2 linked regions of the Homo sapiens genome follow. The protein of the gene in region 2 interacts with the protein of the main gene of each other region in a pairwise test. Each region holds a gene or a part of one and is shown on either strand. Other genes may lie near its edges.

What was found. The genes of interacting proteins can lie anywhere in the genome.
Region 1: the proteins of EVA1B (region 2) and ANXA1 interact in binary tests that used the Homo sapiens proteins (3 or more experiments, as listed by UniProt).

Annotation. Positions count from the first base shown.
Region 1 is NC_000009.12:73,161,865-73,168,864, reverse strand, and holds part of ANXA1 (annexin A1), read right to left. Parts: intron 6,084-7,000; coding exon 6,004-6,083; intron 5,390-6,003; coding exon 5,333-5,389; intron 3,750-5,332; coding exon 3,656-3,749; intron 2,769-3,655; coding exon 2,673-2,768; intron 1,369-2,672; coding exon 1,310-1,368; intron 1-1,309. UniProt on the Homo sapiens protein: Plays important roles in the innate immune response as effector of glucocorticoid-mediated responses and regulator of the inflammatory process. Has anti-inflammatory activity.
Region 2 is NC_000001.11:36,321,530-36,328,246, forward strand, and holds EVA1B (protein eva-1 homolog B), read right to left. Parts: upstream 2,117-6,717; 5' UTR 1,930-2,116; exon of another isoform or gene 1,539-1,929; 5' UTR 1,509-1,538; coding exon 1,442-1,508; exon of another isoform or gene 1,197-1,441; coding exon 766-1,196; 3' UTR 501-765; downstream 1-500. Other genes in the region: SH3D21 (SH3 domain-containing protein 21), read left to right, coding at 195-249, 6,191-6,351.

The DNA.
Region 1 (7,000 bases), on a different chromosome or scaffold from region 2:
TGAAATGAAAATAAATAATCCTCTACATTAGCGGTAGGTATAGAGAGCTGTCACAACTTCCTAACTCATCTCTCACCATCCGGTCTCTACACTGTCCAATAATTACAAAAAAAGGGAACTTCTAAACTGCAAATCTAATAAACTAGTCTATCTATTTAAAACACTGTCAGTGATCTTCTGTTGCTCTTAGGATAGAATCTAATCAGGGCTTCCGATATCCTGCCTAATTCTTTTTCAAGGCTTACAATATCCTGCCTAATTCTACCATCTCTTCCAGTGTGCACCATCACTCTATACTTACTGTCTTGAGAAGGTTATGTTACCTTTTGCCTTCAAGCCTGTGTGTGGGTTACTTCTTCCTCTTGGACCACCCTTGCTTTATCCCCATCTCTTCCACTCTTGCCCTCATCTGGCTCATTTCTATTTAAACTTCAGGTGTTAATTTAGCTGACAGCAATGCTACCTGGATTTCCAAAGTCTGGAGTATATGTCCCACTTTTCTCTTCCATGGCACCAGGTATTCATCATTACCCAACGAAATATCACACTAGACTATGGCAGAAAGGGGGCAGCAACTATGCTAACCACTACAGAGCAGTACCTAGCATGTCTATCATTTCATATTATTCAAATTATTCATATATATTCAAAATATTCCTTCATATTATTCAAATAGTTAGATCTTTCTTTCTCTCTCTCTCTGAAAACCTCCTTATTTTGGAGCTGCAAAGAAAAAAGGAAGATAACTTCATAACTATTCATTTGTGGGCTCAAAATGTCAGAATAGAAGAGGTACCTTGTATAATACCATGCATGTCAGACAGTAAAGTTAAAGTGACATAGTTGATCTCAAATACATCATTCTACATCCTTAATCATAGAATGACATTTCAAAAGTTTCAACTATTAATCTGTGGCATAAAAGACAGAATAATAAAAACAACAAATCAGACTCATAAAGTGGGAGATTATAAAACTCACAACCTTAGAGGAAGTAGGCCACTAAAATTACACGTTAAAAAAGAAAGTACATCACCCTTCCCGTGGTGACACATGTTTTAAGCAAATCACAAGTGAGCCGTAAATCACTTACAGGCTCACTTTACAATCTCATCTGTAAAAAAAAGCACCGAATCTAACAGAAGTTTATTCTGAGAAGGTAGTGTATTACCTCTTTCATCAAATAGAACAATGATTCTCATTAATGGGAAGATATTAAATGTGAGATTTTCAAACAACATGAGGTTTTCTGTTCTTTCTACAAATAATTCTTCCTCTAAGCAGGACATATAAGTAGAATGGTACATACTTTCATGGCTTGATGAAGCTTCTCTGCAAAGAAAGCTGGTTTGCTTGTGGCGCACTTCACTGTTAGAGAAGAAAATTTTAGTTGATGTATTTACCATGAAAAAAATGAAATATCCATATGAAAGAAACAGGAAATATAGAATTTTGCCAACAGTGTTCTATCCCTCATCATCATTCTTCACCTCTCATCTCCCAATATAGGGCAGTTAACTTCTGAGAAGGTATTTGTGACTCTCTAGATGGTGGTTTTGAATATTCTTTTCCCTGACGATCAATTTTTTTATTACCTTAAATACATCTCAAGAGCAACTTCAGTAGTTTGCGCTATCCAACATATATTCTCCTTGGGAGTGGAGAAGCCACTAGGTGTTCAAGCCTATGTAAATACTTTATTTATGTTACTATAAGAACATTTAAAAAGAACACCCTATGAACAACAGACACTGCAGACTACTAGAGAGGGCAGGGAGAGAAGGGGCATTGGTCAAAAAACTACTTATTGGGTACTATGCTCACTGCCTGAGTGCAGAACACCCATGGAACAAACGTGCACATGTACCTCTGTGTCTAAAGTAAGAGTTGCACAAACAAATAAGTAAAAATAAATGAATAAATGAAGAAAAAACTCTGGGATAGGATGGGCTTAAATATAAAACAGAACCCAAATAATACTAGCACATTCCAGTTCATAGTGTTCTTCATCTTGTCGAGATCTATGGACCAACAGCATTGGCATCAATGGGGAGCTTGTTAGAAAAGCAGAATCTAAGCTCCACCCCAGACCTGGGGAATCAGAATCTGCATTTTAACAAGCTTTCCAGGGGATTCAAGTGCATAGTCATGAATGAGAAACACTGCTTGAGAACATAGGTTCCCCAACCCTGATGGTTGTCTGAATAACCTGGGAGATCTTTAAAAAGTACCGATTTTTAGAGGCCAACTCGGACCCACTGAATCAGACTCTCCTGGACCTGCCCAAGATTGTACAATTAACAAGCAGTAGACCAGGACTTGAAGTTACATTTATCCAGATGTTACATTTATTCCAGATCCCATGCTCTCAGTGACCATTCTGAATTGCCTCTGTGGTGTGCCCAGCCTGGTACATTGTTTGATATAAGTAGGTGCTCAATAAGTATAGTCTATCTCTCTCTATTTTTGAAAAGGGGAATAATATCTATTGTTATTAAGGTTATAGTACTTTGCCAATCTTTTACGTTGCTTCAATTGAAACAGATGCACTACTTCTGATTGTTTTTTGTTTTCTTTTATTGGTTTTGTTGCTGTTGTTCTTGTTAAGTATAGGATAGCTTTGAAAATACAATTTCTAGTTAGAAAACTCTTTCAACTGCTGGACTACATACCGATAGCTGTGAGGCATTTCTCAATGTCACCTTTCAACTCCAGGTCCAGAACTTTGTTCATGTCATGCTTACTGTACTTGGTGTATTTCTGAAACACTGAATATTAAATTCAAACTAAGATACATGCAAAACATCCTTTTCTTTAGAAAGCTTTAGCAAAATCAAGGCAACTGACTCAAAGAATTTTTTAGAATAACAACTTTGGCTACACCTTTTAAAGCAATATACCCAATTAATCATAACGTGAATACTTCATCCTCTCCTAGGAATGTAACTTACCTGGCCATTTTGGTATTCCTATATATTTTGGCGAAATGTTTGCAAATGTTGACAGTTATTAGAAACGGCATGTGATTGACAACTATAGCACTTCCTACAGCAGTTCTAAGAGCCACAGCAAATGGATCTTCCCTTATATAAAGACCTGTGCACTAAATTTCTCTTACATTTAACAGTAGAAATCAGTATACTATTATAAGATGGTGAACTTTGGTAATTGTCATAACTTTTCCATCGCCTTCACTTCCAAGAGGCCCAGAGCTAAATCTTGCACTCAAAGGCCAGGACTTTTTCTGAGTTTTGTCTTGTTGTTGTTTTTCCAAAGCACCTACATATTTCTTTCTTCATTTAGCTCTGAGGGTTTTTTGTTTTTTTTTTTTTGTTTTTCTTCATTCTAATTTCATTTGTTCTGTTATGCATGTCTTTTCCCACACATATTCCAAATCTTTTAGGGGAGTAAAAGCAGTGAAAATAACAAAATTATGTTCCACATGCCCAAGTCACAAAATGTATTAAATATGATAAAGTAGCGGCTGTACAAAATTGGACAAATTGACAAATAACAATGGGTCAGGAACACTGTATCTGTTTGATACAGGAGTGATATTGAAAAAGGGTTCTGTTTTTACTTTCTCTTATTTGTCATCAAAAAAGAAAATTGCATCTTCCATAAACAGATTCCAGAAAAAGAAATTTATTGTTACCTCTGCGAAGTTGTGGATAGCTTCTGGTGGTAAGGATGGTATTGAACACGTTTACGTCTGTCCCCTTTCTCCTTTCTCCTGCTTCATACAAGGCCTGTCAAGAAACACAAAAGTAAACACTTCACTATCTGCTGAAATGATATCTGCACAATAATGTTAGACCTTGTCAAAGATTATATAGGCAATCGCTTTGTGCCCAATACAATCAGAGTAGTCAACAATAAGATTGCAAGTTCTTTAAAGATAGGGACCTTATTTTGTTTGTCAAATATCTTCCACAGTTTCTCTCAAGGTGCCTTGTAAACACTAGAGTCTGAATATATGTTTGCAGAATAAATGTTTGCTGAACTAAATTGCTTTAAGATTATGCTCTATAGTAAGACAACTCCAAGGGGATCTCTAAAGATTTTTTACTCTGTGTTGTTCAAAGTAATTATCAGCAAATGTTACTTATAAATCAATAATTCAACCGTAACCTGGACCTTGCATTTTGATGTTAGAATTTCTGTATTCAAATTCTGACTCTGCAATTTCAAAGCTGCATAATCTTAGACAAATAGATCAACCTTACTAAATGACAGATTTTTTTCTTTTATATATGAAAAATATAATCCCTGCCCTATTGTCACAAGCGGTCTTTATTAACTTTGAAATGTTGACTACCATCATTCTCTTGGGTCACACTAATCCATGTAACCTCCATAAATATATATTAAGAACCCTGATAGTCTTAAAATGGAAAGCAAATTCAGAAATGTCAAAAGCAAATAAGAATTTTTTATTATGGGCAATTATTCAAATGCTAACTCTTGTTCCTTAATATGCTTGAACAATTTCTATTAAAATGATAAAACCTTCAATGTATGTAAAAATTATTTTGCATTTTTCAAGCAAATTGATCTGATATGTATGCATTTGTTGAACAAAAAGTTCATGAGTGCCTATTATGTACATGATAATGTACTGGTATAGCAGAAGTGGATGGGGGTGCACAAAGAAATCTCTATCCTTAGTGAAGCACTGTAATGAATTCTCTAGAGAATACTGTTCCATGAGAAGGCATAATGCAAATATTAGTTGTTTGTTTGTTTTAAATGGAAATTCCAGGCTTTAAAATGATATGATTTTTCTTATGTTGCCAGTGGTTTGGCATATAAATAATCAGCAATGTCACTGAAACTAAATAAAACAATATGTTAGAAAGCATATATTATTATAATTTATCCTATACTCTTGTTATATCATTGCAGTAATATTTTGACAATATAAATTGACATCTATAAACCATTCCAAAGTTCTCTGTTAAAAATAACGTTAAATATGCTTACTCTTTCCATTGCACATAATAAAAAAATTACATTTCCCCTTCTTATACCTAGTACAACGAAAGGTCAGAGTTTTTTTTAACAAACAATTCTTGGGAATGACAAATCAAATTTGTATTGTCCTTCTTCAGTTCTCTCTGGTTTTACGAATAATGAGAGATATTGAAAACTTACAAAGACTACTTTTTTGTGTGTGGGGGCTACAGAAAGACATGCCTCATTCAGGAAATGAACATTAAGAAGCCATTGGTCTCTCAGAAGATCTTAGATTTGCTTTCACAGGGGATCATGTGGTAGCCCCACTTAAGGTAGGAAGATGAACTGCAGCAGTATTTTGTAAGCACTTCCTTACCCTGGCATCTGAATCAGCCAAGTCTTCATTCACACCAAAGTCCTCAGATCGGTCACCCTGAAAGAAATCCCATTCTATTGTAAGCTCTTCTCTAGCATGTAATTGCATGATTTACTTAATTATCTTAAACTCAGATAAATAATATTTTTTGAGAAAAAGGTATTCTATTACTCATTTCTAGAAGGAGCTCAGATACAAGATTTTACTTGCGATGGTTTTAGATGTTCTTCCCCTCCAAACCTCATGTTGAAATTTGATCCCCAGTGTTAAAGGTGGGGCCTAGAGGGAGGTATTTGGGTCCTGGGGCTGATCTCTCATGAAGAGATTAATGCCGTCACTGGGAATGAGTTCTTGCTCATGAGAACCACGAGAGCTGGTTGTTAACGAGGCTGGCACCTCCCCATTCTCTCTCTTGCTTCCTTTCTTGCCATGTGGTCTCTGCACACACCAGCTCCCTTTCCTCTTCTGTCAGGAGTGGAAGCAGCCTGAGGCTCTCACCAGACATAGATACCCAAACTTGAATTTGTTAGCCATCAGAATCCTGAGCCAAATAAACCTTTTTATCTTTAAAAATTACCTAGCCTCAGATATTCCCTTATAGCAACACAAAATGGACTAAGAAATTAGTCTTTATAAAACAAGAGGCATTTCCTAAAGTATCTGAGTTGTACCTTAGCAAGAGAAAGCAAAGCGTTCCGAAAATCTCCAGATGTGTCTGAGGTTATGTCTTTGGCCAGATCTCTCTTCAGTTCTGAGAAAAAAGAAAAATAGATTTTATAGTAAACCAGTGATGAATAATAATAAGAATATCTGACATCTCTAAGTTGGTTGAAAATTCACAGTGCCACAGTGTTCAATGACTTATGGAACATGTTGCAAAATATTATCATTTTTAAATAAGAAGAGAAAAATTAAAGCAGGTAAATTTTTGGATCATTGAATTTATTTCATATGAAGCAATGGGAGCAATTTAGATAATACTGTGATTGAAAACTCACAGTCATAAAGCTTTCGTTAAGAATAAATTGTATAGGTATACATTAGTAATTAATTCTGAAATACAACATGGCAGAATTTAAGCAATAGAATGAATAAAATAATTGTTTAAAAGAACAAAATGAGGTACTTGCTTGAATGCAAATTATTTATTTAGTTTAAAAACTATAAATGTCTTATAAGTAATGCAGTTTGATGATTTATGTGTGTGTAAACACTTCTGCTTAACTACATAAAATAATACTGTAATAGGAAAAAATAATTGAATTTATAATTGACTAGTGCTATGGTTTTCATATTGTTTGTTTGGCCCTGCCAAGTCTCATGTTGCAATTTATTCTCCACTGTTGAAGGTGGGGCCTGTTGGGAGATGTTTGGATGATGGGGGCAGATCCCTCATGAATGGCTCGGAGTGAGTTCTCATTCATAGTTTCTTTAAGAACTGGCTGTTGAAAAGAGCCTGGCACCTCCTTTTCTCTCTCTCCCTCTCTGCACACATCTGCTTCTGTCTGCTTTCTGCCATGAGTAGAAGTAGTATGAGGCCCTCATCAAAAGCAGACGCTGGTCCCATACTACTTGTACAGTATTTCCTTTCTTTTTACATTACTTGGTCTCAGATATTTCTTTATAGCAACACAAACGGACTAAAACAACTTGAAACTGGGCAATGTA
Region 2 (6,717 bases):
CCTTCTCGCCAGCTCGGACCCCTCCCAGCTGGCCTCCCTGTCCGCTCAGAGGGACTCCTGCCCTCTCGCTTGAACGCACCTCGGCGCAGACGTGAAGTCCACCGTCCAGCCCAAGCACGCATGCTTACACCGGGGCTAGCAGCACCTTAGCCTCGAGGTCAGGGTCCTGAGGCCTGGTGTGTGTGTCATTGCAGTGTATGAACCCAGGGCACTGTGGGGACAGGGCGACGTGTGTCCAGGCGTTTGCCGGTAAGGAATGCGTTTTGAATAAGGAATGCGCGCGCGCTTGCTCTGTGTGTGAGGCTGGGTGCAGGCCTGTGGGCTTCTGCTTTTCTGCTGGCTGTGAAGTGAATGCGGGCAGGTGTGCTGTATCGTCGGGTTGGTGGGTGGGGGTGGTGCAGCTAGGGTAAGGGAGTCAAGCTGGGCCTCAGTCCTGGGGCCCCTGCGTGGCAGGAGCCTGGGGGTCGCTGGGGGCAGGAGTAACAGAGGGAGAGACTGAGTCACTGAGAATGCAGCTTTCTTTCATTTGGTCACTTCACCTCTTCATCGACCCCAGAGAGGGAGTGGGGACCCTGCATGCTGCCCCCTCCCCGCCCCCGGGGTCTTCTGGCAGGACTGGGGAAGGGAGCCTCTCAGGGGGTGGCGGTCCACGCCCAGTAGCACCTGGGAGCTGTGGGGGCCGAGGCAGTCCGAAGGTGTGGGGTAGCTCTGAGCTCATGTGCAGGTCCGGTACCCCGAGCGCCTTGCAGCGGGAGCCGGGGCCCATCAGTAATAGTGCATGCGGCCCAGGGTGCCCGTGGCCGTGGGGCTGGGCCCCAGCGTGCCTGTGCCCAGCAGGTCCGGCTGCCCGGTGCGCCAGATCTCCCGCAGGATCCGTTCGCGCTCCTCCAGCCGCTGCGCCCGCTCCAGCTCCTCCGCCGACGTGAAGACGTTGACGTTGAGGGGCCCGTCCGGCTCTGCGGACAGCTCGGGGCCCGGCAGCGTGTCGTCGGGGCCCAGCCGAGTCACCGTGTCCTCCTCGTCCTCGTCGTCGTCCTCGGGCTCCAGGGTGCTGCTGCGGGGGTCCCGGCGCTGAGCCGGGCCCCGGGGCCGCGGGCGGGGCGCCCACGAGATGCTGATGACGAGCAGGCAGAGGGTGAGCAGCAGGCCGAAGCAGACGCCCAGCACGAAGTAGAGGCCGAAGCTCTCGGGGTTGGCTGCGGGGCACAGGGCGGGGGTCACGGAGAGGCCCGGACGGGTGGGGGTTGTCCCACTTCCGAAAGACCCCAGGTTCTAGGTGTGGGGGCGAGGCCTGTAACCCCTACTCGAAGGGCATTAGGGAACCGCCAGCGGGCAAGAGGGCGGGGAGCGGGGCGGAGGGGACGGACAAGGCGCTGGGGAGGGAAGGGGATGGTGGTCAGGGAAGGGTTCAGGCCCCCAGTCTTCCGGCGCCCGCCCTCACCGCGGATGTGCGCGTAGGCAGCCAGGCTGTTGCTGAGCAACTCCATGTCCCTTCGCGGGGCATCCATGCTGCTCTGGGGGGCAGCTCCCCTACCAGCCTGCGAGGTCAGCAAAGTCAGATCCTTCTCCCAGCCTGGAGCCCACCCCGACCCCTTCCGCGGGCAGCTCCTCTCCCGGGAGCCGCGGGCCCAGGTTCCACCCTGGAGAGAGCGCTTCCCTAACTTCGTGGCGGCCCGGGGCCCTGTCGGGGGGAACCCCTCTCCCGGGCGCGGACGCCCCTCCAGTCCTGGGAGCAGCGCCGGGGACCGCGGGAGGCCCCGCCCCCTGGTGAGGTCCCCAGCTGAGGCCCGGTTCCGCCGTCCCGGGGCGGGATGGAGGATAGGGACGCTGAGCCTCCACGCCCCAGGCGGGCTCCGGGAAGGGAAGCTGCCTCTCTCCTCGCCCGGCCGCCCCGCGGGGACCCACCGGCCCGGGGCCAGGCCCACTCACCGTCAGCGCCCCGCTTCCCGGCTGCCCGGCCCCAGCGCGTCCCGCGGCCGCATACACTGGGTCCGGCCGCCCCCGCCCGCTCGGGTCCCGCCGCCCCTCCGGCCCCGCTGGGCTCCCAGGCCGCGGCAGCACGGGCGGGACACGGACCGAGGGACCAGCCGGCGGAAAGTTTCCTCCGAGGAAAGAGGAGGGACGGGGCGGGGCGGGGCGGGCGGGGAGGCGGGGAGGAAAAGGGCTGGGAGAGGAAGGGGAGAGGAGCGGGCAGCCGGGAGGAGGGAGAGCCCGGCCCGCGGGCCGTCCGTCCCCCACAGGAAACCGCCGGGGAGGCCGCGGCAGGGACCCGCCCCCAGGCCACTAACAGCAACAACAGAGAGGCTGGAGCTCTGCCTGCGTGCGGGCCAAGGGCTAAACCTTGGACAGGTTCTTTCACTTACTCCGCCTGACAACCCTGCGACGTGATACCATTATCCCCACTTCGCAGATCAAATAAACGGAGTCTTGGAGAGATTGAATTGACTTTACCAAAACCGTCAGGATTTGAATCTGCTGCTCTCTGATCCTAAAGCCTGAGCTAGAAACCACCGCTCCCCCTCCTAGGAGGCCCCTTCCAGGCAAAGCTGCTTCTCTTCCCCAGACCCATGCTGGACTGGAAGGGAGGGGACTGTCCACCCCTCCTTCCAGGGCCCAGGCTTGAATGTGTCCCCTGGCCGAGCTCTGGTCTAGTCACGCAGGGTTAATGATTGTTGGACTCCAGCTTTGAGCCAGGGCCCGGCCAGCAGTCTCGCAGACCCCAGCGTGGGGCCTCTGTGCCTGCGAGCTCCTGCGCTCTTGTGCACCAAGCAGCTTGTGGCGGCTTGTGGCAGATCCCACCCCATCCCGTCCCCCACCCCAAGGCTAAACCTGCCTGTGCTCACACACGCATTTCCCACCTGGGCTTGTGCATGCAATGTGGTGTGTGATCAGTGTGTGTGGCGGGGGGCTTCCTTCTGCCCTGTCTCCACGGGGCCCCCCCATCATGGACCTCCCCTCCCTTGCTGGAGCTAGAATGAGGGGGAGGCCGCCTTGGCGGGAGCCTTAGAGAGGAGGAGGAAAGGGGGAGAGGAAATTGCAGACATAGCTGAAGGCGCTGCCTGAGGCCTGTGGGCCAGCGACCCTCTCCCTGTCCGGGCTGCAGACCCCTACTCCCCCAGTCCCGAGACTGGGTTCAAGTAGAGGGCAGATCTAGATGGGGGAGGACTAGGACTGACTCCTATGGGGATGGAAAAGGGACTCCTGGGTGTCTTTGTGACTGTTTAGTGTGTTCTGTGAATGTGCGGGCAGGTATTTTTGCCCACATCTGTATATTTGTCTATTAATGTGATGTATTTGAGTATTGTTGTGGGGGCGGGTATGTCTGTATATAAATCTGTGCAGCCACTAGTCAACAAATACTGTGTATGCCTAGCACTTCCTAGTCTAGTCCACAGCATCTGTGGGTTTAACCAACTTTGCATCAAAAATATTCAAAACCAAAATTGCATCTGTGCTGAACATGTACAGACTTTTTTTCTTATCATTATTTCCTAAACAATAGATATATTTAATTTTTTTTCTTTGAGACAGGGTCTCACTCTGTCACCCAGGCTGGAGTACAGAGGTGCTATCTCAGCTCATTCACAACCTTTACCTCCTGGGCTCAAGTGAGCCTCCCATCTCATTCTCCCAAGTAGCTGGGAGGGACCACAGGCGTGCACCACCATGCCTGGCTAATTTTTGTAGAGATGGGGTTTTGCCATGTTGCCCAGGCTGGTCTTGAACTCCTGGGCTCAAGTGATCCACCCACCTCAGCCTCCCAAAGTGCTGGGATTACAAGTGTGAGCCATCATGCCGGCCAATAGTGTATTTTCATAGCGGTTACATTATATTAGATATTATAAGTAATCAAGAGATGATTTAAAGTATACAGGAGGATGTGTATAGGTTAAATGCAAATACTGAACCAATTTATTTTACATCAAGGACTTGAGGATCCTTGGATTTTGGTGTCTATGGGAGGGAGGTCATGGAGCCAATCCCCTGAGAATACTGAGGGACAGTTTTTTTTTTGTTGTTTGTTTTTGTTTTTGAGACGGAGTCTCGCTCTGTCACCCAGGCTGGAGTGCAGTGGCGCGATCTCGGCTCACTGCAAGCTCTGCCTCCCAGGTTCATGCCATTCTCCTGCCTCAGCTTCCCAAGTAGCTGGGACTACAGGCGCCTGCCACCACGCCTGGCTAATTTTTTGTATTTTTAGTAGAGACCGGGTTTCACCATGTTAGCCAGGATGGTCTCGATCTGCTGACCTCGTGATCCACCTGCCTTGACCTCCCAAAGTGCAGGGATTACGGGCGTGAGCCACCGCGCCCAGCCCTGAGGAATAGTTTTAATGGGGATTTAACAATAAACAGAACAGACACAAATCCTTGCCCTCATGGAGCTGACACTAAATTGGAGAAACAATAGAAGATAATCTCAGATGCTTCTAAGTGCTGGGGGGCATGACAGGATAGGGTAATGCGATGGACAACACCTGGGAGTGGCTCTCACAGGGACATCCACAGTGAGACCTGAATCCTAAGGAGGAGGCAGCTGTGCCAGGATCTGGGGAGAGTGTCTGGGCAGGAGTAAGAACATGCTTGGGATACCTCCCTCCAAGGGAAGAAAGCCACGCAGATGGTGTGTGGGTGCAGGGGAGAGTGGCAGGGGCTGCCCGTGCAGGGACTCGATGGCCTTGTTGATGAGCTTTTTCTTTCTTTCTTTCTTTTTTTTTTTTTTGAGACGGAGTTTCACTCTTGTTGCCCAGGCTGGAGTACAAAGGCGCGATCTCTGCTCACTGCAACCTCTGTCTCCCGGATTCGAGTGATTCTCCTGCCTCAGCCTCCCGAGTAGCTGGGATTACAGGCATGCACAACCACACCCTGCTAATTTTGTATTTTTAGTAGAGATGGGGTTTCTCCATGTTGGTCAGGCTGGTCTCGAACTTCTGACCTCAGGTGATCTGCCCACCTTGGCCTCCAAAGTGCTGGAATTACAGGTGTGAGCCACCGTGCCCGGCCAGGAGCTTGGTTTTTAATGTAAGTGTGGTGGGGAGCTCCTGGAGCGTTGAGCAGGGGAGTGTCATGGCCCTGTGACACATTTTGGAAAGATCCCTGTGGTGGCTCAGTGTAGGGTGGGCCACTGTGGGCAAGAAGGGGAGCAGGGAGGGTGGTGAGTAGGCTGGCAGCTGTCCAAGCCAGTGAGGGCGGGGCCGGTGGAGAGGCGAGAGGGCTCAGACTCAGGTGGTGTTCTGAAGGGAGTTCCTGCACTGGACTTGAATGTGAGGGAGAGAGGAGTTTAGAACACTTTCATACTGGGCTGGGGCACCTGAGGAAAGCCCATGTGGGGAAGCAGGTTTGGGGGTAGTCAGTTTCACTGTAGATAGGTTAGACTTGAAATGTCCATTAGATATCCAGGTGCAGGTGTTGGCAATGCAAGTAGAACCCCCAGGAATCTGGCTGAAAATGATATTTGAGAGTCCTTACCACATAAGATGGATTTACCACCCCAGAAGTGGATGAGACCGAACATCTGGGGTAAGGGGGCAGAGAGAGAAGGGTCTGAAGCTCGAGCCCATTGAGGGGTCTCCTGGAGGTGAAGTCAGCAAGGAGAACCAGGCCAGAACAGGGATGTGATCAGCCATGTGTGATTGGGCTGAGAGGTGAAGATGAGGCCAGAATTTGCCCACTGCCTTGGCCGAGATTTGAAGACCATCAGCAATATTGAGTTTCTGTGGGTTGTATTCCTGTTTCTTCAAGGGGTGTATGTCAGTGACTGTTTGCACAGGTAGCTTATTTATGTGCAGCATTGCTGGGAGTGCATGAGCATGTTTAATGCCTGCCATCCACGGGAATATCGGTGTGTGCTACAGTGTGCTTGTATGACTACGTGTGTTGTGTGCCTCAGTGCCTCAGTTCATGTGGCACAGACCTGTGTCTGTGAGAGTCCACATGTGTGCTCCTCTATGTGCAGTCTAAAATTTTGGATCTGTTTCTGTCAAGCTGTTTCCATGCACCTCTGTGCTACGCAGCTCTCTGTATCTCTGCCTGCAGGCAAAAGTATGTTTGTGTCTGGGTTGGTATGTGACATATGTGTTTGGAGTGGGTCAGGTATGACTCAGCCCTAGTGGAGCAGGATGAGGGTTGAGATGATGGTTGCTGGTTGCTTCAGAGAGAGGGACGCACATTAACCAGAGTGCTGTCTTCTCCAGGGGCTTGCCGTGGCCAAGCCAGGCCAGGTGGGAGAAGCGGCAGCCTTGCCCTGGAGGGTTTTGAGAAGCACTGCTCCTGGAGGCCCTGGGGAAGGTCCCTGAAACCTTTGGCCAATGTGGCTGTCCCCATGGTCCACATGCCCTCCCCACCCCCTGCCTAGCTGCTTGACTGCCTGCTGCTCCCCAGCCCACCAGCCTGTCCGTGGGTCAGCCCAGCCACCCGCTTCGGATCTCTGCACGTGTGTCACCTGCTGTTCTGGCCCTCATCCCAACTATCCACCTGCCCATCTCCTCCCTACCTCCTCGCTGCCTATCTGCCCAGGACTTATCTGCTGTCTGCTCACCTGCCTGCTTGTTGACTGCTTCTCTGCCCTCCTATCTGCCTGTGAGACTAGAGATTTGTCACCTTGGAAAGCACGGAGAGTACTGCTAAGATGAAACACAGGAAGGACAGGCCTTGATGGAAGGTTGGGGGGCCGAGAGATCCAGAGCCTATGGGAGGGGACTTGTGAGTGCTGGCATATTCA